Linked DNA regions of Homo sapiens. The protein of the gene in region 2 interacts with the protein of the main gene of each other region in a biochemical or structural test. Each region holds a gene or a part of one and is shown on either strand. Other genes may lie near its edges.

Region 1 (6,518 bases), on a different chromosome or scaffold from region 2:
ATTTGTTATTGTGCCCAAAGAAATATAGATATATACTTATTTTCAAATGTTTATTACGAATGACCTACTAGTAATAATATTCTGGCGCAAGATTTCAAAGCTTTAAATGTATATCTCCAAGTTCCAGAAGAGTAAAGCTGAGGTTTAATGTTCAAGGTTACACAAATCTGGGCAGAGCTGGAATTCAAGCCCAGGTTTTTTTTTTTTCTTGTTCTTCTCTAAATCTCTTACTTTTCACTACTACACTGTCTTTTCTTCAGATGTGTTTATATTTAAAGAAGGCATTAAGAACCTATAATTATGAAAAGTTGGTCCCACTTGGAAGAAGCTCAAGGATGAAAAATTAAGTTTACATCCTAACTAGAGAGATTGGGAATGATTTAATGATTAGGAAAATGATAGGTATGCATATATGAGGGTAATTTTCCATATTTCCCTGTATGTGTGTATCTTTAATTCATAAAAATTAAAATTTAGGTTAACTTAACGAAGCACTTCACTTTAGTGAAGGTTAACCCTTCATCTCATACACCGAAGTTTTTGGTCAATCATTTTTACTTCATGATTTAAAAGAAAAAAAAGACAGATACTGGATTTGATAAGTACAATTCTGCATACAGATACCAATGATACATAAGATTCAGGACTAAATGGTTATTAAGGCCCCTTTAATTTTAATAGAGACAGTAACAGTAGCTCCCGTCTATGCAGCAATGGTTATTTCACAGATACCGGGCAAAAGACTCTCTACATAACTTAATCCCTGAAACAAACCTCTAAGTAAATATTACTTTACTCTGCCTTTTTCTATGAATGAGAAAGCTAGTACTCAAAAAAGCTAAATCACTTTCCCAGAGTCACTCAGTTAGGAAATGGTGGAGTTGGGATTATTCAATGGTTCAGTCTCTCATTTCTTCATCTTTTAAAGTACTCTAAGGAAACAATAAAAAATCACATGGGAGGATAACACATTGACATGGTCAATCACAGGAAAAATAAACCTGTAGTACTCTAACTTGGTTATTTCTATATATGTAGGGTTTTAAAAATTACAACTATTGATCTGCTTTGAGAATATCATTCCTATTATAACTGTATAGTTCTAATATCCACCCAATACATAAATTTTCTATCTTTATAGGTTGGAAATTTAAAAATATATACATGGAAAAACATACAGTACAAACCAACCAAATTCAAATAAAAATCTTTAAAAACTCTTAGAAATTCTTTAAGCAGGTTATGTCAATCCTATTAAAAATGATTATTCTATGTACAATACATAATCTTTAAAAATACAGCTCCAGGAAACAAAAACTCTTTGGTTCAGCAAAAGGATTATAAATGTGGAAATCTAATTTGTTAAGGATGCACCTTTCTGGATTGGGCTTCACTTATCTAGCTTAACTCATTAAGGAAGCATATAGCTGGCTTTTTTCTGGATGATGAAATTATGAGTGGGGACTGGGTAGAGGTTCCTTTTGACATAGAACATTAACATATGAAAATATAACCAGAAGCTTGAATAATCCCGGAACTTATACAGTATTTTTACTCTGCTAGATTTAAAAAATACAGAAAAGTCTCTGCTTCTCATTCATTTTGGAAGGAGGGTAAGGGAATGATCATGGTCAATACATACAACCATTCACCAGTGAAGTTCTTAGGTACTAGGTCCCATGCTATTGAAACTATCCTACTTATTATTTGGGAGAGTGCAAGGAAGGGATAGGAGGGATGCTGTTGTCCCTTTTACTTCTGAAATCCTATCACTTTTCTGGTGGCTTGCCTGTCTTAACAATCTAAATTTATAAACACATCCATGACTCAGATGTCTTTAAAAAGCGCTATTAACTCAGCAGTGACTACAGTGCATCAACATTTGTCAATGGGATTTATATTAAAAATTAACGATGATTCTATACAATTTTGGTTTATTAATAGCAACTATCACAGAATTTTTCAAAATACCTCAGATTTTCAAAGAGTCAGCAGTCTTACCTACTAGAATATATTTTCCTTTCTATTTACTGGGAGGCAAAAGCCTTCGCAATTTTGTTCCAGCACGTTTTCTACTCTGGTTGTGAAAATATTTTAGCATCATTTAACCACACATTGTAACTATCTTTAACAAGGACTTTCGAAAAGTCTCTAAGGTATCACTGATCATAAAGGAGAGAAAATATTTCTTGCTTTACTTTTTTTTCTAAGTTCCCCAATAGAAAATAATTACCTGACTGGATTGATTGATTCAGTTACTTTAGGAAATGGTGCCACTGACTATTGCTCAATCTTGCCTCTCCCTGGACTCATGTCAGAGGCGTATTAATATATTTTCAGGTTAAAAGCAGGTGAAAGTCAGGAGGTTCTGTTGGCTACCATGGTTTCTGCAAACCACCATTTTAAGATACCACCATGCTTATATGAAGTTGCTGAGAGCTGGGGAGCTCTCCAAAATTCACCATTGTTTTTCCTTCTATTTGTATGACTTAGTTATTCAAGGGCAAGACCCTTTTTAAACGTTAGTAGTACTCAAACGAGAAGGATATGATTGGAATGGAACAATAGATTGCAGAAAAAACTGCCACTTTAACAAAAATGGCTCTGATTGTGGAAAGGAAAATGGGGTAGCCTCTAGCAGTTGAGAAAAGCAAATAATGTAATACATCAATAATTCACAGCATCTAAATAAGACACTATAACTCAGAACCATATCCACACCATTCTCCTCTTCCCATTGTGCAGGAATTTCTTTTCCCTAATGGTCTTCCAAAGATATTATAATACTCTGAAAAGAAAATAATGTGTTGGATTATTGATCCTTGAGGTCCTCTTCTGTAGAGTACAGGCAGTAATCAACTTTTCTTCTGTCAGAAGTCTTTATCCCAGCCTGATAGCTCATCTGGAGGCATTCCCTTTTCAGGAGGATATTTGTCAAAGTAGCTGTGATCTATGGGTCCCTTGAGCTAATATAGAAATAATTAAAACAAAAGGAAGAATAATGTTGACCAAGCATGCTATCACATATGGGTAATGTTTTTTATTTCAGAACACTGATTTCATACTGCAGCCACTTGGAAGTTACATACAAGAAAAAAATGACCAATTATCATTCTTGAGTCCTAGTCTCAGCCTCATGAGATCTTCTCTTTACAACCAAATAGATTTGGTCACCAGATAACATTCAATAGTAACTACCTGGCATGAAGAGTTTTCCTAAAGAAAAAGTTCAGAAATAGGCCAGGCGCTGTGGCTCACGCCTGTAATCCCAGCACTTTGGGAGGCCAAGACAAGCAGATCACCTGAAGTCAGGAGTTCGAGACCAGCCTGGCCAATGTGGTGAAACTCCATCTCTATTAAAAATACAAAAATTAGTTTGGCATGGTGGCACACACCTGTGATCCCATCTACTTTGGAGGCTGAGGCAGGAGAATCACTTGAACCTGAGAGGTGAAGGTTGCAGTGAGCTGAGATCACACCACTGCACTCCAGCCTGGGTAACAGAGTGAGACTTTCTCTCAAAAAAAAAAAATAAGTGACAGAAATGATGTCTATTTATTTTTTTAATTGAAAACTCTTTTAAAATCAAAATCTGCTAGCGTTCTTCTTCCATTATATAAGTTTCTCACCAATCCTGAAATTTTTATGGTTAATTGATCCATATAAAGTATTCAGAATGCCAAAAAAGGAACAATTCAAAATATTAGTGACCCTGTTGAGAGAGTGAAATTATGCTGGTATTAAATTATTTCACAAATAAAATGATTTCTAACTCTGCTTTCAAACAAATGTAAGTAATGCCTAACTGAATGATCAGCTGAAAAATCATTAAAAATATTATTTATGATAGATCATAATGTGGTGGAGGAACAGAGCTAGAGATCATTCAGAAGGAGCTCAAAGTGACATCGCTGTAATAAAACCTTCCATTCCCACTTATATATGTGAGAACACAATTCTTAGAATTTGTATCTGCATAACAATCATTTTAAAAAGGAATAGAATTGATGCTGAATCTGATCCCATTCTTCTAATAAATAATATCTATCCATAGATACATGAAATAATTTCTTCTCAAAAAATGTTTATTTAATAATTACCATTAGATATTCATAATATATTTATGCCATTTGACACTGCATGCCATAAAAATGTAATTATAACAGAATTCAGAAGAAATACTGGTGTTATCACAAATTTTAAATCTAAAATTCGAAGGCATTTAAAGAATGATCAAGAAAGATTGTCAAGCATAGAAGCATTTTACATTAGGATGAAATCTTATAGGGAACATAGAATGAAAATATGATGATATGATGAAAAGGAGTGATACAATATTTCTGCCCAAACTTTATAAGTGGCAGATAGGTATTAAATCTCAATGGTATTTAGATTATAGTAGACATGTTTAAAGGAATGAAGTAACAGTAGTGTTTTTATTATTATTATTATTATTATTTTTTGAGACGGAGTCTTGCTCTGTCATCCAGGCTGGAGTGCAGTGGCGTGATCTCGGCTCACTGCAAGCTCCACCTCCTGAGTTCACGCCATTCTCCTGCCTCAGCCTCCTGAGTAGCTGGGATGACAGGTGCCCGCCACCATGCCCGGCTAATTTTTTTTTATTTTTAGTAGAGACAGGGTTTCACCATGTTAGCCAGGATGGTCTCGATCTCCTGACCTCGTGATCCGCCCGCCTCGGCCTCCTAAAGTGCTAGGATTACAGGCGTGAGCCACCATGCCTGGCCTAGTGTTTTATTTTAAAATGTCAATATTTACAACATACTGGAAATCATATTCTCCACAACTACACTTTGATGAAAAAAAGTCAGATAGCAATCTACCAATGTATAAGAGGAAATATAGATCTTTGCAATCTTTTGGAAAAAACACTAACATAAACTTAGTAGTATGTTGACCTAGATCATTCCTGAGTCATTCTTCCTCCCATGTTAGCTGAAGTTCTGCTGCCTCTAGAGCTGCACTATCCAATAACAAAACCATTAGCAACACGAAGTGACTGAGCACTTGAAATGTCGCTCTTCTGAACTGAGATGTGCTGTAACAGTAAAATTCACTTGGGATTTAGAAAATTTATTATGGAAAAATAAACATAACCTATCTCACTAATATTTTATATTGATTACATATTGAAATAATATTTTGGAGGTATTATGATAATTAAAATTATTTTCACCTTTTTTTTCACCTTTTTAAAATGGCTATTAGAAAATCTTAAGTTACATACATTGTTCACATCAAATTTATACAGTCATTTGTCAGCCTGAACAACACTGACTACTTTGGGACTTAAGTGGCACTGACATGTATTTGGTTCTTGACAGGTAAGTTAATATCCATCAGCTAGGCAGTACTATTTAGTCCCTATAATCACAATTATAAGACAAACTCACTTAAATTAAAATAAAAACTGCTTTAAAAAAAAACACCCAAAATCTGTTATGGGCATATACATACACACATCTAAAATCTGTGTACAAAAACAAATCCCTGGGAAAAAAATAAAAAAGTAATATAATAAATACAATACCTCTCTTTGCAAAGGTGATGGAAGGCTCCGTGCTTTCAGTCCCTCCCAATTAAAACCATTTAACCACCTGAGAAATGAGAAAGGAAGGAAGGAAGGAAGGAAGGAAGGAAGGAAGGAAGGAAGGAAGGGAGAAAGAAAGAGACGACAAAAAGGAATATTACTTGGATGATAAACTATTAGCATGTCAAGTTATCTGTCATGGCTTTAAATAGCACTTATATGCTAATTATTCCCAAATTTCTATTTCCAACCAAGACCCCTCCATCAGCTTACAGGCTAAGGTCTACAATTCTTATTCATCTTCTCACTATTAGATGTCTAATAGGCATCTGGCATGTATCATGTCTGAACAGAAGCTTAAAATGTTCTCCACCAACCTCATCTCAATTCTTCCAGTTGCTCAAACCAAAGCTCTTGTAGTTGTTCTTTGCCTTATATCCTATCTGAGTCCATGATCAAATCCTGTCAGTGCTAGCTTCACATTCTATCTATATTCAGTATCTGGCCAGTCTTCAATACCTTCACTCTACTAGCAAGGAACCAGCCGTACTTTTGTGCTGGAGATAACTTAGCAGCAAGACTGGTCGTTTATAGCATAAGTCAGGTCACAACATGCCTCGGTTCAATACTTCCCCACCTTTTCCATCTTACTCAGTGTAAAAGGCAAAGTCTGTTCCATGTCTTTGCTGTAACCTATAAGGCTTTATAGAATCATTGTTTCTACCACCATCCTTCCATTACCTTACCACTGTATTACTTTTCTCTTTCTTTCTCCCTTAACTCATTTATCTTCTCACTATTCTCCTAACCAACTAGGGTTGTTCCCACTTTAAGGCCTTTGTACTCAAGGCTGGATTGTTCTTTCTCTAGATTTCCATGTCTTATTCTCTCAACACCTTCATGTCTTTTCTCAAAGTTCATCTCAGTGAGATCTTCCTTGGCCATCCAATCTAAAATTGAAACTCTCCCC
Region 2 (8,129 bases):
TTTCCCCCACGACCCATGTCCTCCAGGGCCAGGTGAGCCCTGATTGGCCAGGGCCTCTAGGGTAGGGGAAGGGCTCTGAGAGGACCTCAGTGGCCCTTGGGGACACAGCTGCAACCATGGAGTACCGAGTCCATCAGAAAAGAAATCTGGGGTCCCACGGCAATTAGTGGCAGGCTATGAAAATGGCCCATGGCTAAAGGAGAAAATGTTAGGAGGATAAATGTGAGGCTCTATAATTAGGTACAAATCAACAGTGTCATTCCTGGGGGAAGGAAAGAACATTCACGAAGGAAAACAAATGGCACACGGGGCATCACCCGGGGGATCTGCTGGCCTTGGCCGCTGAAGTCAAGGGAGCCAGTGCGTGATGTGGCCACCAAAAAAAAAAAAAAAAATGCAGAGGCCAGGCACGGTGGCTCATGCCTGTAATCCCAGCACTTTGGGAGGCCGAGACAGGTGGATCACCTGAGGTCAGGAGTTCAAGATCAGCTGGCCAACATGGTGAAACCCCGTATCTACTAAAATACAAAAATTAGCCGGGTGTGGTGGGTGCTTGTAATCCCAGCTACTCGGGAGGCTGAGGCAGGAGAATCGTTTGAACCCGGGAGACGGAGGCTGCAGTGAGCCGAGATTGCGCCACTGCACTCCAGGCTGGGTGACTAGAGTAAAATTCTGTCTCAAAAAAAAAAAAAAAAAAAAAAGAAAAGAAAAAGGAAAAGAAAAATATTGAAAGAGAATAGAGGAGGTCCTCTGATGAGGCACAGCTGTGAAGGTGAGACGGCAGATGACCAGTTTGGGAAAAGCTGAACTTGTGGGTTAGATTTTTGCTACCAACTAGCTTGAGAAGGTCAGCAGGGCACCTGCTAGACTCAGTAAAAGGAGGCCAGTGTGGGGAGGGCAGCAGGGCAGGCACCGCCCCCCCCCACCCCACACCGCCTGCCCGCCAAATGCCAGATGCCGCAGAAGCTAAATCAGTGTTTCCAGGAAGCAGTCTCTGCAGACAAGTCCCGGGAACCACACAGCCTCTCCATTGCTCCTGACCCAGTAACTGTTCTGCTGGGAACGCACTTCAAGGAAATAATCTAAAGGGCAAAACCATGACTTGAGCAAGCACTCGGAGCTGGGTCATTTAACACAGCAAAAGGGCAAAAATAACAAGCAGGGGATAACCACAGAAACCTGGATGGGGCATGTGGGGAGCAACACCCCTGCCCTGGCAGTGCCACGTCTGGGTGGGTGCCCAGCCAGGACCTGGGAGCAGCTGCCTCACGGTGGGCTGAGTGGAGATGGCACCCGATCAGCAGGACCCAAAGTTTAGTCCCCCTGTCTCCAGACGGCCCCTTAGAATCCCAGTCTCCAAAACCCTTCCAAAGCTTCCTCCTGCCACGAGGGGCGAGACCTTGGGCCGGGCACCTGCTGACCACAGAGCCTCACCCACCAGTGACATTATCAACCTGTGTGCAGCTGCCAGAGCCCTCAGTGCCACAGGACGACTCTAGGCCCTTGTAGAGGCACTTCCTCTCCCTCCCCCCGGAAGGCTTTCGCCACACGGACAGCCCAGGTGGGGAGACCTCTGCCTCATTCCCCACAATCAGAAGACGCTGGATGAGACCAGACACAAGGCCCAGCTAGGCCTGGTGCAAGCCACAGAGCACACTCGGAGGAACGGCTCAGCGAGGTGAGGATACCAACAGCTGATGTGCGACGCAGGCCCTCATAGAGCAGGCCGCAGGGTGAAGGCACCTTGGATCCAGGGGTTAGCCCTCAAGGGCTGCCATTGTCAGCCAGGGAGCCCAGCAACCAGGGCAGACCACTAGGCCAAAGTGTAGCTGGGCACAGAAGGCTCAGCTGAGAAACAAGGGACTCCGGCTTCCTCCAGCTGTCCCTAAATGGGCAATGGCTGCCTGATCTACCTAGGCCTTATGTGATGCTCCTAGAGCCCCCTCAGTCCCTCGGGCGGGGAAGACCCTCCAGCAGGCTGGCTGGGGCCCCGGCCATCAGTGCGCACGTGTTGGAAGAAGTTGGTCCAACAACCCAAAGTCCCAGATGCTGGCCACAAGCCCCCTAAGACACGCTTCCTAAGTGGTAAGGCCTACAGGTGGCCTGGGCTCAATCGGGTTCCAACACTTATAAACTGTGTCTTTGTCACTCTGGGCCTCAGTTTCCCAACGTGTAAAAAGAGAGGCTGGTTAGTATCAACCTCAAAGGGCTGCAGTGAGGATTTTAGTTAATTCGGGTAAAGTGCTCAGAAAAGTGCAAGTACTGGCTTAGCACTGTTGAGAGTTCTGAGTGAAGAGATGGAATTCTTGCTGCACACACGGGTGCCTTTCCACTCAATCCCAGCTTTGCACCCCAATCCAAGGCTCCCACCACCACACACCTCACCCCCAGGCCCTCATCTCGGCCCAGCCCCCATTGCCTGCCCCGCCTCTCCCGGGCCCCACCCCCAAACACGCTGCCCCAATCAGGACAAGCCTCGTGAGAGCCCCGCCTCCGTTTGCCCAGGCCCAACCCACCTATTGGTCACGCCCATCACGCCTTAGCCCCGCCCCTAAAAACCCCGCCCCCATCCCGAATCACGCTTTCAGCCCAGCCCGGCCCGCCAAATCTTGGGAAAGCTCCACCCCCTGCGGAGGCCCCGCCCTAACAGCCTCTCCCACCGCTCCGGGCCCCACCCCCTCTAGGCTCTGGCCCCGCCCCGGCGCGTCCTAGGTCCCCCAGGTCTCTCCGGGCCTCCGGCTCCGTATAGCCGCGCATCCTAGCCCGAAGCTGATGCTGCCCGGTCGGCTCCGGCCTTCCCGGCTGCCTGACCCGCCGGGCCCCAAGCCCCGGGCTCCGGCCTGGGCCCAGCGGCCTGGAGCGCGGCCTTGGCCCGTCTGCCCGCCGCCTCGCCGCCACGACTTCGCCCGTCTGTGCCCCACCGGCCGCACCTTTGAATAGGTAGTCGTACTCGTCGTCCCGGGTCCCCATTGTCCTGGCGCTTCCGGCGGGATCGGCGACTCCGCAGCCCCACCACAAACACCCGACGGGGGCGGAGCCGGCGCCGCGCAGAGCGGCGGTTGAATGGCCTATCAGCGGCGAGTGGAGTAGCGACGGGCACCCAGCGAAGCCAATCAGAGATGGAAGTAGTGCTCTGAGGGTGGGCGCCGCTTGGTACCACCCTCCTCGCCCTCGGTGTCCTGGAGAAAGGCGGAAGGAATGCGGACCTTTTTGAAGTGACGGACGCGCCAGCCTATCAGGGGCGAGCTCAAGAGGGCGGGGCGGAAGACTGCAGGAATGAAATGGATTGACAGACCAAATAACTAATGAGAGGCTTGATTGAGAACCTACCCGACTATCAGAGGACCTGTCCGGGAAGAGAAATGGGGCTACGTCCAGGTAATGCTACGATGCTTAACGTCCCGATGACGTCATAGGTCAGCGCGCGCTGCCCTGGTCGCCCCCCAAGCCCATAAATGACCATTTCCGGGGACCTCAGCGCTGGGTCCCCTTTCTCGGTTGCAGTCTCCATCTCTATATTGGGACTCACTGGGTTATCCTTCTGTGCCTCAGTTTCCTCCTCTGTAAACTGAAGAAACCCGTCTCATGGAATCTTTTGAAAATAACCAGATCAGCCAGGCGCGGTGGCTCACGCCTGTAATTCCAGGACTTTGGGAGGCCGAGGCTGGCGGATCACGAGGTCAGGAGTTCGAGACCAGCCTGACCAACATGGTGAAACCCCGTTTCTACTAAAAATACAAAAATTAGTCGGGCGTGGTCGCTGGTGCCTGTAAACCCAGCTACTCAGGAGGTTGAGGCAGGAGAATCGCTTGAACCTGGGAGGTGGAGGTTGCAGTGAGCCGAGATTGCACCAAGTGTGAATCAACCGTCCACTTTCTGCTATTCTTTGTTAAATAAATACTTTTAAATCCTTACTGGATACCAATGCTCTCCAACAGGACCTCCTACCACTACCCCTCTTTTGTCCTATATTTTGCCACATAGGTAAAATATAAAAATAGGTAATATAGAAAATAAAACACATACTGCTGTATTGTCAGGTAGTGATAGGATTTATCACTACCTGACAATACAGTATGTGTTTGTTTTATATATTTAGGGTGTACAGCGTGTGTTTTGATACACATGTACCCAGTGAAATAATAATTATGACAGTTTTTTTTTTTTTTTTTGAGACGGAGTTTTGCTGTCGTTGCCCAGGCTGAAGTGCAATGGTGTGCTCTCGGCTCACTGCAGCCTCTGCCTCCCGGGTTCAAGCGATTCTCATGCCTCAGCCTCCCGAATAGCTGGGATTACAGGCATGCACCACCATGCTTGGCTAATTTTTTTGTATTTTTAGTAGAGACGGGGTTTCTCCATGTTGGTCAGGCTGATCTCGAACTCCTGACCTCAGGTGATTCGCCCACCTTGGCCTCCCAAAGTGCTGGGATTACAGGCATTTTCACCACACATGGCCAATTATGAGAGTTAAGCAATTAACCTATCCATTGCCTTCCATAATTAACTGTGTGTGTAGTGAGAGTATCTAAAATGTACTTTCTTGGCAAATTTTCAATATACTATGCAAAATTATTAACACAAAGTATACGTTACTTTTTGTTTGTTTGTTTTGGCTGGCTGCGGTGGCTTATGCCTAAAAACATGCCCTTTGAGGAGGCTGAGGTGGGAGGATCACTTGAGGCCAGGAGCTAGAGACCAGCCTAGGCAACATGTCAAAACCCAGTCTCTCAAAAAAAAAAAAAAAAAAAGAAAAAAAGGAAAAAAAAGAGAAAAGGAAAAAAAAGAAAAGAACAACAACAAAAATTAGCCAGATGTGGTGCATCATGCCAGGGTCCCAGATACTTGGGAGGCCAAGGCGGGAGGATCATTCGAGCCTGGGAAATCGAGGCTGCAGTGAGCCATGATCACCCCACTGCACTCCAGCTTGGGTAACAGAGCAAGACCCTGTCTCAAAAAAAAAAAAGCCTTGCTTTCCTGACCCATTGATCTGTTTGTTTTTTGTCCTCTGTCAGCAGCATATCAGCCTGATGACATCAGGGACTGTATCTGTCCCCATCATTGCTGTAAGTTCCCCACTGCTGAATAAATACGTTTATTTATTCAGTGGTGAATAATCTAAGCCTAGAGTCAATGTACTAGTTATTAGAGCAGATGCCATTATCGCCTCTTGGATCTCATTCCCAGGGTGTTCATTGGGCATCTGTCAAAAAAACAAAATTACAACACATTTAGTTTAAAGATCTTAATTGATTTTATTTGCAATTCTACAATCGGGCAACACTTCATTTCACAAAATGAAACTAATTTTCCCATGAGCTGAGCAGGTAGGTTGGTTTTACAGGCAGAAAAAGGGCCAAGTAAAGCACAAACAGAAAATAAAACGTGGAGGTCAGGTGCAGTGGCTCATGCCTGTAATCCCAGCACTTTGGAGGCCGAGGCAGGCAGATCACCCGAGGTCAGGAGTTCGAGACCAGCTTGACCAACATGATAATGATGATGAAACCCTATCTCTACTAACAATACAAAAATATTAGCCGGGCGCGGTGGCAGGTGCCTGTAATCCCAGCTACTCAGGAGGTTGAGGCAGGAGAATCACTTGAACCAGGGAGGCGGAGGTTGCAGTGAGCGAAGATCACACCATTGCACTCCAGCCTGGGAGAGCAGAGCAAAACTCCGACTCAAAAAAAAAGAAAAAAAGAAAAGAAAACTTGGATTGGTCATTTTAAAGTTTCCTTTTGGAGTCTGAGTCTTGCTCTGTCACCCAGGCTGGAGTGCAGTGGTGCGATCATAGCTCACTGCAACCTCAACTTCCTGGGATCAAGCAATCTTCCCACCTCAGCCTCCTGAGGAGCTAGGATCACAGGTGTGTGCCACCATGCCCAGCTAATTTTTTTTTTCCAGAGACAGGGTCTTGCCTTGTTGGCCAGGCTGGATTTGAACTCCTGAACTCAAGCAATCCTCCTGCCTTGGCCTCCCAAAGTGCTGGGATTACAGGCATGAGCCACCACCGCACTCAGCCCAAAGTTACTTTTCTTGTAAAGGTTAAAGCAGAGAGGACATCCTTATCATGATGGCTAAAACTGACCTGGTGGGAGACTTGGCTATCCCATCTCTCTCTCTCCTGATTTTGTAGAAGGTCAGATAAACAACTTAGTTTCTTTTTGATCACGTAAAACTTTAGCATGAGTGACTCCATTTTGGTTTAGTTTGTTGGGCCTGGTGTAGGAAGTCAGTCCAAAGTAATAGCCTCCTATAAGTTTTGTATAACACATCCTGTGTCCAGATTGGTGGGTTCTTGGTCTTGCTGACTCCAAGAATGAAGCCACAGACCCTCCGGTGAGTGTTACGGTTCTGAAAGATGGTGTGTCCAGAGTTTGTTCCTTCTGATATTCAGACATGTCTAGAGTTTCTTGCTTCTGGTGGGCTTTTGGTCTCGCTGACTTCAGGAGTGAAACTGCAGACCTTTGCGGTGAGTGTTACAGCTCATAAAGGCAGTGCGCACCCAAAGAGTGAGCAGCAGCAGGATTTACTGGGAAGAGTGAAAGAACAAAGTTTCCACAGCATGGAAGGGGACCCAAGCACGTTGCCGCTGCTGGCTGCGGTGTCCTGCTTTTATTCCCTTATTTGGCCCCACCTACATCCTGCTGATTGGTCCATTTTACAGAGAGCTGATTGGTCCACTTTACAGAGTGCTGATTGGTCCGTTTTACAGAGTGCTGATTGGTCCGTTTTGACAGAGTGCTGATTGGTGCATTTACAAACCTTTAGCTAGACACAGAGTGCTGATTGGTGCATTTACAATCCTTTAGCTAGACAGGAAAGTTCTCTAAGTCCCCTACGCGATTAGTTAGACACAGAGCGCTGATTGGTGCATTTACAAACCTTTAGCTAGACACAGAGCGCTGATTGGTGCATTTGCAATCCTTTAGCTAGACAGAAAAGTTCTCCAAGTCCCTACTCAACCAAGAAGCCCAGCCGGCTTCACCTCTCAATCACCCCTCTAAACAGAACACCCCAACTGCTGTTGGGAATTTGGCCGATGACCACTCTAGCTACTTCCTGCTGGAAGAAGGGGCCCTGCAATTGTAGTGTCCTCCAGAGGGGAACTCTTTAGGCCAGTGGAAGGGCCAGTGGGTCGGTCCAGGGGTCCTCAGTAGAAGTTGTTAGTTGAACTCATTTGGGGTTCCATTTTTAAGACCATCTGTAGCTTGATGGCCTCGATTCTAGAAGAAACAAATTTGACAAGAAGGTTAAAAATGCAGGGCCCAAAGGTGAGTAAGAGCAAGATGGCTGCCACAGGACCTAGGGGAGAAGCCATGTTGCCCAACTCCAGAGGTTGGTATTAGAGTTCGAAAGGCATTGTCTGATTTCAGAAGCCTTTTCCTGTAAATGCCAGGTGGCATCTCGTGCTATCCCTGACTGTTTAGTGTAAAAACAACACTCTTCCCCTAAGAAGGTGCAGAGTCCTCCTTTCTCAGCAGTGAGGAGGTCTAGGCCTCAGTGGTTTTGGAGAGTTGCTGCTGCCAAAGAGTATATTTGGGATTGTAGAGTAAGGATAGATTTTGTTATTTCTTACAAACTGTCTGAGAAATCCTTTGAAGGTGTATGGTAGTAGAATAATGAAGTGGATAAACTGGCTATTCCGGTTCCTGTAGCAGTAGCCATTCCTAACCCTATAAGTAGGGATATTAGTTGTATGGCCCTGCGCTGATAGACTTGAGCTTTGAGGGGCACAGATACGGTCTGATTTCCATAAGATTAGAAGTTAGGATAATACATGTTACACTGTTAACTTTTTTAGCAAACTTTACTTTTGTTGAAAACCTTGTAAGTTTGGGATTTCAATTATTCTTTGCTATTAGTAAGACCTTGTTCAGTCCATATTAACTTAGAATTGGTATAGATGGCTGCTTCCTGATTCTGTAAGTACTTTAAGATTTGGCTGAGTGGAAACAACTGGCATGTTTGAGCAGACCAATTATTAGGCAATTTTCCTAACTCTGCATCTACAAGAGTTTCCTTATCACTTACTGAATACCCATTGTGTCTTTTTCCCTTAATCGCCTGGGAGGAACCATCTATCATCCTGTCCTGAAGGGAGTTCCTCCTAGATCTGGTCAGACCTTTGT
Region 3 (7,713 bases), on a different chromosome or scaffold from region 2:
AACATGGTGAAGCCCTGTCTCTACTAAAAATACAAAAATTAGCCGGGCATGGTGGCACACACCTATAGTCCCAGCTACTCAGTAGGCTGAGGCAGGAGAATTGCTTGAACCCGGGAGGCGAGGGTGCAGTGAGCCGAGATCGCGCCACTGCACTCTAGCCTGGCAACAGAGTGAGACTCCATCTTACAAAACAAACAAACAAAAAACACACACACACACAAATTAAGAATCTCCAGGCATGAAAAAAAACACCATTAAAAGACTGAAAAGGCAAAATACAGACTGAAAAAAATAAAAATGCAATACATATATATCCTAGAAAGGACTCATATCCAGAATAAAGCATTATAAATGAGAGAAAAATAAGCATATCAACGAAAACTGGGCAAAAAGACTTAACAGGCACTTCACAAGAGGAAATATAAATGGTCAACAAAAGATACTCAACCTCAGTACCAGGAAAATGCAAAATGAAACCACACTGATATATTACTGTACCTCTACTAGACTAGCAAAAAAAATTTCAACTGACAAGCACCAGCAAGGATGTGGGGTAACCGGAACATTCCCTGCTAATTGGTAGAACCACTTTGGGAAAATGTTCAACAATTTCTAATACTAGAGTTTTATCACCCACGTACCTATAAAACCAACAATGCCACTCCTACGTACATACTCCAATCTAGTAATGTCCTATTTCTTGATCTTTGGTGGTTCACTTAGTAAAAATTCATTACCTGCGATGTTTTTTGTTTTTGTTTTTTTTGAAAGACGGTCTCACTCTGCCGCTCAGGCTGGAGTGCAGTGGCATGATCAAGGCTCACTGCAACTTCGACCTCCCCGGCTTTGGTGATCCTCCCACCTCAGCCTCCTGGGTAGCTCGGACTACCAGCGCACACAACCACACCCAGCTAATTTTTGTATTTTTAGTAGAAAATGGGGTTTTGCCACGTTGCCCTGGCTGGTCTCAAACTCCTGGGCTCAAGTGATCCACCTGCCTCTGCCTCCCAAAATGCTAGGATCACATGCGTGAGCCACCGCACCCAGACCACCTGCACATTTAGAATTGTGAACTTTTTCTCTATACTTCAATAACTTAGTTCTAAGATTTATTTGACACAAAGTTCTCGGAAATCGTAGTTATCATTTTAGAACAGAAAAAAGACCACCTGGGCCAGGTGCGCTGGCTCACGCCTGTAATCCCAGCACTTTCGAAGGCCGAGGCGGGCAGATCATTTGAGGTCAGGAGTTCGAGACCAGCCTGACCAACACGGTGAAACCCCGTTTCTACTAAAAATACAAAAAAAAAAAAATTAGCCGGGCGTGGTGATGTACGCCTGTAATCCCAGCTACTCGGGAGGCTGAGGCAGGAGAATATATCCAGCCTAGGCAACAGAGTGAGACTCAGCCTTAAAAAAAAAAAAAAAAAAAAAAAAGAAAAGAAAAGAAAAGAAAAAGAAGGCCGGGCACGGTGGCTCACGCCTGTAACCCCAACACTTTGGGAGGCTGAGGCGGGTGGAACACGAGGTCAAGAGATCAAGACCATCGTGGCCAACATGGTGAAACCTCATCTCTACTAAAAATACAAAAATTAGCTGGGAGTGGTGGCGCGCGCCTGTAGTCCCAGCTACTCGCGGGGCTGAGGCAGGAGAATTGCTTAAACGCAGGAGGTGGAGGTTGCAGTGAACCAACGTCGCCACTGCACTCCAGTCTGGCGACAGAGCGAGACTCCCTGTCAAAAAAAAAAAAAAAAAAGAAAAGAAAAGAAAAAGAAAAAGAGCTTCTGGTACACTGGTGAAATTCTACTAACAAAATTTTAAAACAAAAAAAGTTACTTACATCAGCTCAGAACAAAGATTAAAAACTACCAGCAGATCACTTTTCTTTAACTTCAGTAAGCACTGGAATTCATTCTTTCGGCAAAGAAAGGAGTTTATTATTCAACACTGTAACCCAAAGAAAAGATACCACTTCAAGAAAATACTTCTTTTCGAAAGCAGCTCTACCAGCAATAGATAGGAGGAAAGCGAGGAAACCATTCCAAAAGGCTTGGTTTAACTCTTGGGTGAAAGGATGCCAAATGAGATGATCTAAGAAGCCCCAAAGACAGACAGACAGACAGACACAGGGAAATCACAGCAACTCTTTTGAGTGGAAACACCAACACCACAATCCAACCTACCGGAAATCCTGAGGTTAATTTGAGGCTTGCCCCACTAGTCATAAGGTGATTCAGGAATGGCTACAAACTCTTCTCAAGTTCATTCTGGACCTGGCACATCTGTCTTGCCCATCAGCAGCCTGGAGACACGCCATGCGCAGAATCCCGGAGGCCAAGTAAAGACGCCAACTTTGCAAGTCAGGGGGGCGAGTGCTCTCGCCCCTCAGGTCCCCAAAGGGAACCGACTTCTGGCCTCGAGGGTGGGGTGCAGGGTCAGTGTCCTCCACGGGATTTACGAGGACGTGCCCCCGAAGCTGCTCCGTCCCTCCACCGCCCTGGGACGCCACAGTTAGACCCGCCGACGAGTTTCTTCCCCAGCGCCCACGAGAAGGAGGGCTGCGGGCGGCGGCGGCGGCGACAGGCGAGGAAGCGAGTGCAGGGAACTTAGGCCCTGGCGGGGCCAGGCGCGCCCGCCCCGCTCCCACAGCAAAACTTGCGGCGGCCCCCGCCCGCCGCGCCTCGGCCCAGCTGTGCGCCAGCGGAACACGGACTCACCGCCCGCCCGGCCTCCCGGCCCGCCCGGCCTGGCGCAGCGCCCCTCACCTTGGAAACGTTGAGTAGACTTCGCCGTAAACATTAACTTCCCATCCAGCCGGCAGCCGCGCCGCCGCGTCTCAGCGCCTCGGCCCCGCTCCTGGCTCCACGGGTCGCCCGTCCCGAGTTCCCAAAAGCACCACGCTCACTCAGAAGCTCAGGGCCGCCTCGCGACCCTCACCTACCCCTCCCGGCACCGCCGCTGTCGGAACTGCAGCCAGCCCCTTGCCAGCTGGCCAGCTGGTTCCTCCGGGGTCCGGCCCGGCCGCGTCAGGAGAGCCCAAGGCGCAGGCGCGGGAGGGCCTTAAAGAGACCCGGCAGCCTCTACCGCAGAATGGGTTGGAGCAGGTTAGGGGCCGGGCGGGCCGGCCGAGAAAAGGAGAAGGCGAAGGGATTGGACGGAGTGCAGAGGAGGCGGGGAAATCGCTCTCGCCCTCCGCCTCTCTTTCAAAGCACCAGCCTTCAGTCCTGCAAGTCGCCGACTTCCCCGGCCACTGGAACCGCCCCTTCCATGTTAAAACGGTAGAAGACACACCCCCTCGGGGGCCCGAAGCGACCCCGAGCTTAGGACTGCAGGCCTCGCGCTGCCGCACCGACGCGGAGCCTGACTTTCAGGGCCCTGGCACGCGGTGCTGACGCGCATGCTTCGGAAGGCAGCCCCGAGCTCCCCCAGAGGTGGCCTTAGGGCACTCGCAAAAACAATAATCAACGCGTAAATGACACTTGTAATTGTAATGTACTCTTACACGTGTCTTCGCATTGGGTTTATGCAGACTACTGCAGGGGGCAGAACATGGGCACGAATACGTAAGATTCAGCCGGGCAGCCCTCCAGCGTCAACGAAGACATTCTTAGAAGGAAAGTACTTTGTTTGGGACGGAAACAGCCTATTAATTTCTGGTCCAGGAAAAGCAGGCAAGAAAAAGTAAAAAGGCAATACAGATTACTTTCATTATATGTTTAGAAGTGACAGCCGGGCGCGGTGGCTCACACCTGTAATCCCAACACTTTGGGAGGCCGAGGCGGGCGGATTGCCTGAGGTCAGGAGTTGGAGACCAATCTGGCCAACATGGTGAAACCCCGTCTCTACTAAAAATACAAAAAAAAAAAATAGCCCGGCGTCGTGGCGTGCGCCTGTACTCCCAGCCAAGCTACTCTGGAGGCTGAGGCAGGGGAATTGCTTGAACCACGGAGGTGGAGGTTGCAGTGAGCCAAGATCGCGCCACTGCACTCCAGCCTGGGCGACAGAACGATACTCTGTCTCAAAAAAAAAAAGGGACAAAAATTATAATAATTAGCAGCACAAGAAACTCCGGAATTATTTGTCTAGAAATTAGTATCCCTATTTTTAAATTTAAATTTATAAGACAGAATTCGCAGATGGGTTTCCACTGAACTAAGCATTTCAGAAAAAAAAAAAAAAAAAAACCTTACTTTTTTTTCAACAAGATTAGGAAATACCAAGAAATAGGAAGTAAAGCCATGCCCTCCACCCAGCTAAAAACTTTGAAAACTTGAACTTTTATCTGAGGCATATGTTTGCATAACTTTAGGTTGTGCCATTATTTAAAGAAATTTCAATTAACAATTTTATTGCAACTCAATCCTTGTATAAGAAAACTAAGCTACATCCTTGATAATGTACCTCTCCCCTCTTATATTCCATCCGTCAGCAAATTCTATTGGTTTTTCCCTTACAAATGGTCCTTGAATCTGTCCTCTCCTATTTCCTCCATCACCACCCTAGTCTAGGCTACCTTCACCTGGGGAGTGGGGGTGGAGGGATTACTGACCTAGTCTTCTTGTGGTTTACCCATATTCCCTTTATCCCCTCTCTAATCTCAACACAACAGGCAGAGTGACTTTTTCAAAATAACAGTGTGACCCTGTCACTTCCCAGCCTAAACCACTTAAACACTTTCCCATTCTCTTAGAAAAAACCCTCCTAACTAACCAAGCCCTGAATGGCCAGGTGCCTTGCCCACCTCTCCACCTCTTCTCACTGCTCAGACCAATTCCACCCTGCTGTCTGTGCTCCAGCCACGCTAGCCTCTTTTATTCCCTATTTACCGGCTTCCTGGCCTCAACAGAGCTTTTACTCATGCTTTGCTCTGTGCCCAGAAAGTTCTCCCAGTCCTCATCCTTTGACAACGGCTCTAGTATCCACCTCTGAGAAGCATCTTCTGACCTCCCTATGGTGGTCTCTTACTCCTTTCACATCGCATGAAACTGTAATTGGGTAGTTATATTGGTGAATTTTTTACTATTAGCTCCTTAAGTCCAGGATTTGATTTTGTTTGTTTCATGGTTGTATTTTCATATTTGTTAAATATATATTTGTTCAGTAAATGAAAATTATAGATGCTAAAACTTAAACTAAATTTGGCATAAAGTCAGAGAAAGGTAAAATGTCACCATCTGACATTTGGAATCAGAATCTAAAAACTTCAGTTATGTTAAAACTGATTTTATATCATTTTAGCTGGGTTGTCACAAGATTCTTTGGGTAACCTTTAAAACAGTTCTCAAAGAGCCTTTTGTAAGCACCTGAATTAATAATGATAAGACATGGGATGGCCCACATAAAACTAATAACATTGATTGCTTCAAGAGAGGAAGACTGAGCCAAGCACGGTGGCTCACGCCTATAATCTAAACACTTTGGAAGGCTGAGGCCGGCGGATCATTTAAGATCAGGAGTTTAAGACTAGCCTGAGCAATATGGCAAAACCCTATCTTTACAAAAAAAAAATACAAAAAAAAATTTAGACAGGTGTGGTGGTAGGCACCTGTAGTCCTGCTACTTGGGAGCCTGAGGCAGGAGGATTGCTTGAGCCTGGAAGGGTGAGGCCGAAGTGAGCCATGATCGTGCCACTGCACTCCAGCCTGGGCGACAGAGAAAGATCTTGTCTCAAAAAAAAAAAAAAGAGAGAGAAAGAGAGAGGAAGACTGGGTGACTGGTGGGTACCAGTGGGAAGGAGATTTTTACTGCATGCCCAAAAGGTTTAAAATTGTACCTTTTTTATCTTAAAGTATGTGAATTATCTATGTGAAGATAAATGACACAAAGTATGTGAATTATCTATGTGAAGATAAATAAATGACACAAAAGAGTGTCATACTGTTCCATTTATTTGAAATTCTAGAAAAGAAAATTAATCTGTGGTGAAAAAAAATCATAACAGTGGTTCCCTGTGGCAGGGGATTGACTGGGATGGTACATGAGTGAAATTTCTGGGTGGTAAAAATGGTCTCTATCTTGATAGGGATGTGAGTTACATAGGTATATTCACTTATCAAAAAATATGCAGGTAACATTTCAGTGAATGTAAATTTTACCTTAAAAACTATAAAAAATAGTGGCCGGGCGTAGTGGCTCACACCTGTAATCCTAGCACTTTGGGAGGCCAAGGTGGGTGGATTGCCCGAGCGGAAGAGTTCAAGACCAGCCTGGACAACACAGTGAAACCCCATCTCTACTGAAATACAAAAAAAAAATTAGCCGGGCATGGTGGCGTGTGCCTGTAATCTCAGCTACTCGGGAGACTGAGACAGGAGAATCACTTGAACCCGGGGGGCGGAGGTTGCAGTGAGCCGAGATTGCACCATTGCACTCCAGCCTAGGTGACAGAGTGAGAGACTCCATCTCAAAAACAAAACAAAACAAAACAAAACAAAAAAAAAACTAGGCAGGACATGATGGCTCATGCCTGTAATCCCAGCACTTTGGGAGGCCGAGGTGGTGGATCACAAGGTCGGGAGTTCAAGACCAACCTGGCCAACATGGTGAAACCCCATCTCTACTAAAAATACAGAAATTAGCTGGGCGTGGTGGTGTGTGCCTGTAGTCCCAGCTGCTCGGGAGGCTGAGGCAGGAGAACTGCTTGAACCCAAGAGGTGGAGCTTGCAGTGAGCCGAGATCGCGCCACTGCTCTCCAGCCTGGGCAACAGAGCAAGACTCTGTCTCAACAGCAACAACAACAACAAAAAAAACCCCATAAAAATTAAATAAAATTTTAAAATCTAATAGCTAACACCTGGTTGAGCACTCAACATGTATGGGTATTGGCTAAGGCTGTATACATACACTATTTCGTTTAATCCTCATATTGTCCTCATGGGGTAGGTATTATTATCATAACCCCCTTGCATATGAAGAAGCTGAAATTTAATAAATACCAAATAACTTACCTCAATTTATACCCCTGGAAAGTGGTGGCAGAGTTTTTAACACAGTCAGTTGAATGCCAGAAGTGGTTAAACATTAGGCCCTGTAGCACTTCTCTGAAATTGTAATATTTTGGTTTATATACATTACTCATCTACTAGATCGAGAGCTTCACAATGATTGAAATCCTGTTTTGTCTTTTTGTTTGTTTGAGGTTTGTGGTTTCATTTTATTTTATTAATTTAAAAGACTGGGTCTCACTATGTTGCTCAGGCTGGACTTGGACTCCTGAATTCAAGCCATCCTCCTGCCTCAGCTTCTTCTTCTTTTTTTTTTCTCGCTCCGTCGCCCAGGCTGGAGTGCAGTGGCAAGATCTTGACTCACTGCAAGCTCTGCCTCCTGGGTTCACGCCATTCTCCTGCCTCAGCCTCCCGAGCAGCTGGGACTACAGGCGCCTGCCACCACACCTGGCTAATTTTTTGTATTTTTAGTAGAAACGGGGTTTCACCATGTTAGCCAGGACGGTCTCAATCTCCTGACCTTGTGATCCGCCCACCTCAGCCTCCCAAAGTGCTGAGATTACAGGCATGAACCACCGCGCCTGGCCTTCAGATAGTTTTATTTGCGGTAAATTCAGTGAGCAATTCAAAGTTTTCTATGTTCTGATACTGTACAGCCTTAGCATTGATTTGGGTCACTGTCTGGGAGGGGAACCCCTCTAAACTTGGCAAGGGTTAAACCCTGGAACACCGTGCTCTAAACTGCCAAAGGTGTTTAAGTCAGTCATGTT

Evidence for each region. The genes of interacting proteins can lie anywhere in the genome.
Region 1: the proteins of RAB11B (region 2) and PRKG2 are reported together in a solved structure, tested with the Homo sapiens proteins (one study listed by BioGRID).
Region 3: the proteins of RAB11B (region 2) and EVI5 interact in a biophysical measurement, tested with the Homo sapiens proteins (one study listed by IntAct).

What each region holds. Positions count from the first base shown.
Region 1 is NC_000004.12:81,086,838-81,093,355, forward strand, and holds the end of PRKG2 (cGMP-dependent protein kinase 2), read right to left. Parts: intron 5,616-6,518; coding exon 5,549-5,615; intron 2,967-5,548; coding exon 2,871-2,966; 3' UTR 538-2,870; downstream 1-537. UniProt on the Homo sapiens protein: Crucial regulator of intestinal secretion and bone growth. Phosphorylates and activates CFTR on the plasma membrane. Plays a key role in intestinal secretion by regulating cGMP-dependent translocation of CFTR in jejunum.
Region 2 is NC_000019.10:8,385,258-8,393,386, reverse strand, and holds the start of RAB11B (ras-related protein Rab-11B), read right to left. Parts: upstream 3,028-8,129; 5' UTR 2,971-3,027; coding exon 2,931-2,970; exon of another isoform or gene 2,696-2,930; intron 1-2,695. UniProt on the Homo sapiens protein: The small GTPases Rab are key regulators of intracellular membrane trafficking, from the formation of transport vesicles to their fusion with membranes.
Region 3 is NC_000001.11:92,782,072-92,789,784, forward strand, and holds the start of EVI5 (ecotropic viral integration site 5 protein homolog), read right to left. Parts: upstream 3,038-7,713; 5' UTR 2,765-3,037; exon of another isoform or gene 2,225-2,764; coding exon of another isoform or gene 2,183-2,224; intron 1-2,182. UniProt on the Homo sapiens protein: Functions as a regulator of cell cycle progression by stabilizing the FBXO5 protein and promoting cyclin-A accumulation during interphase. May play a role in cytokinesis.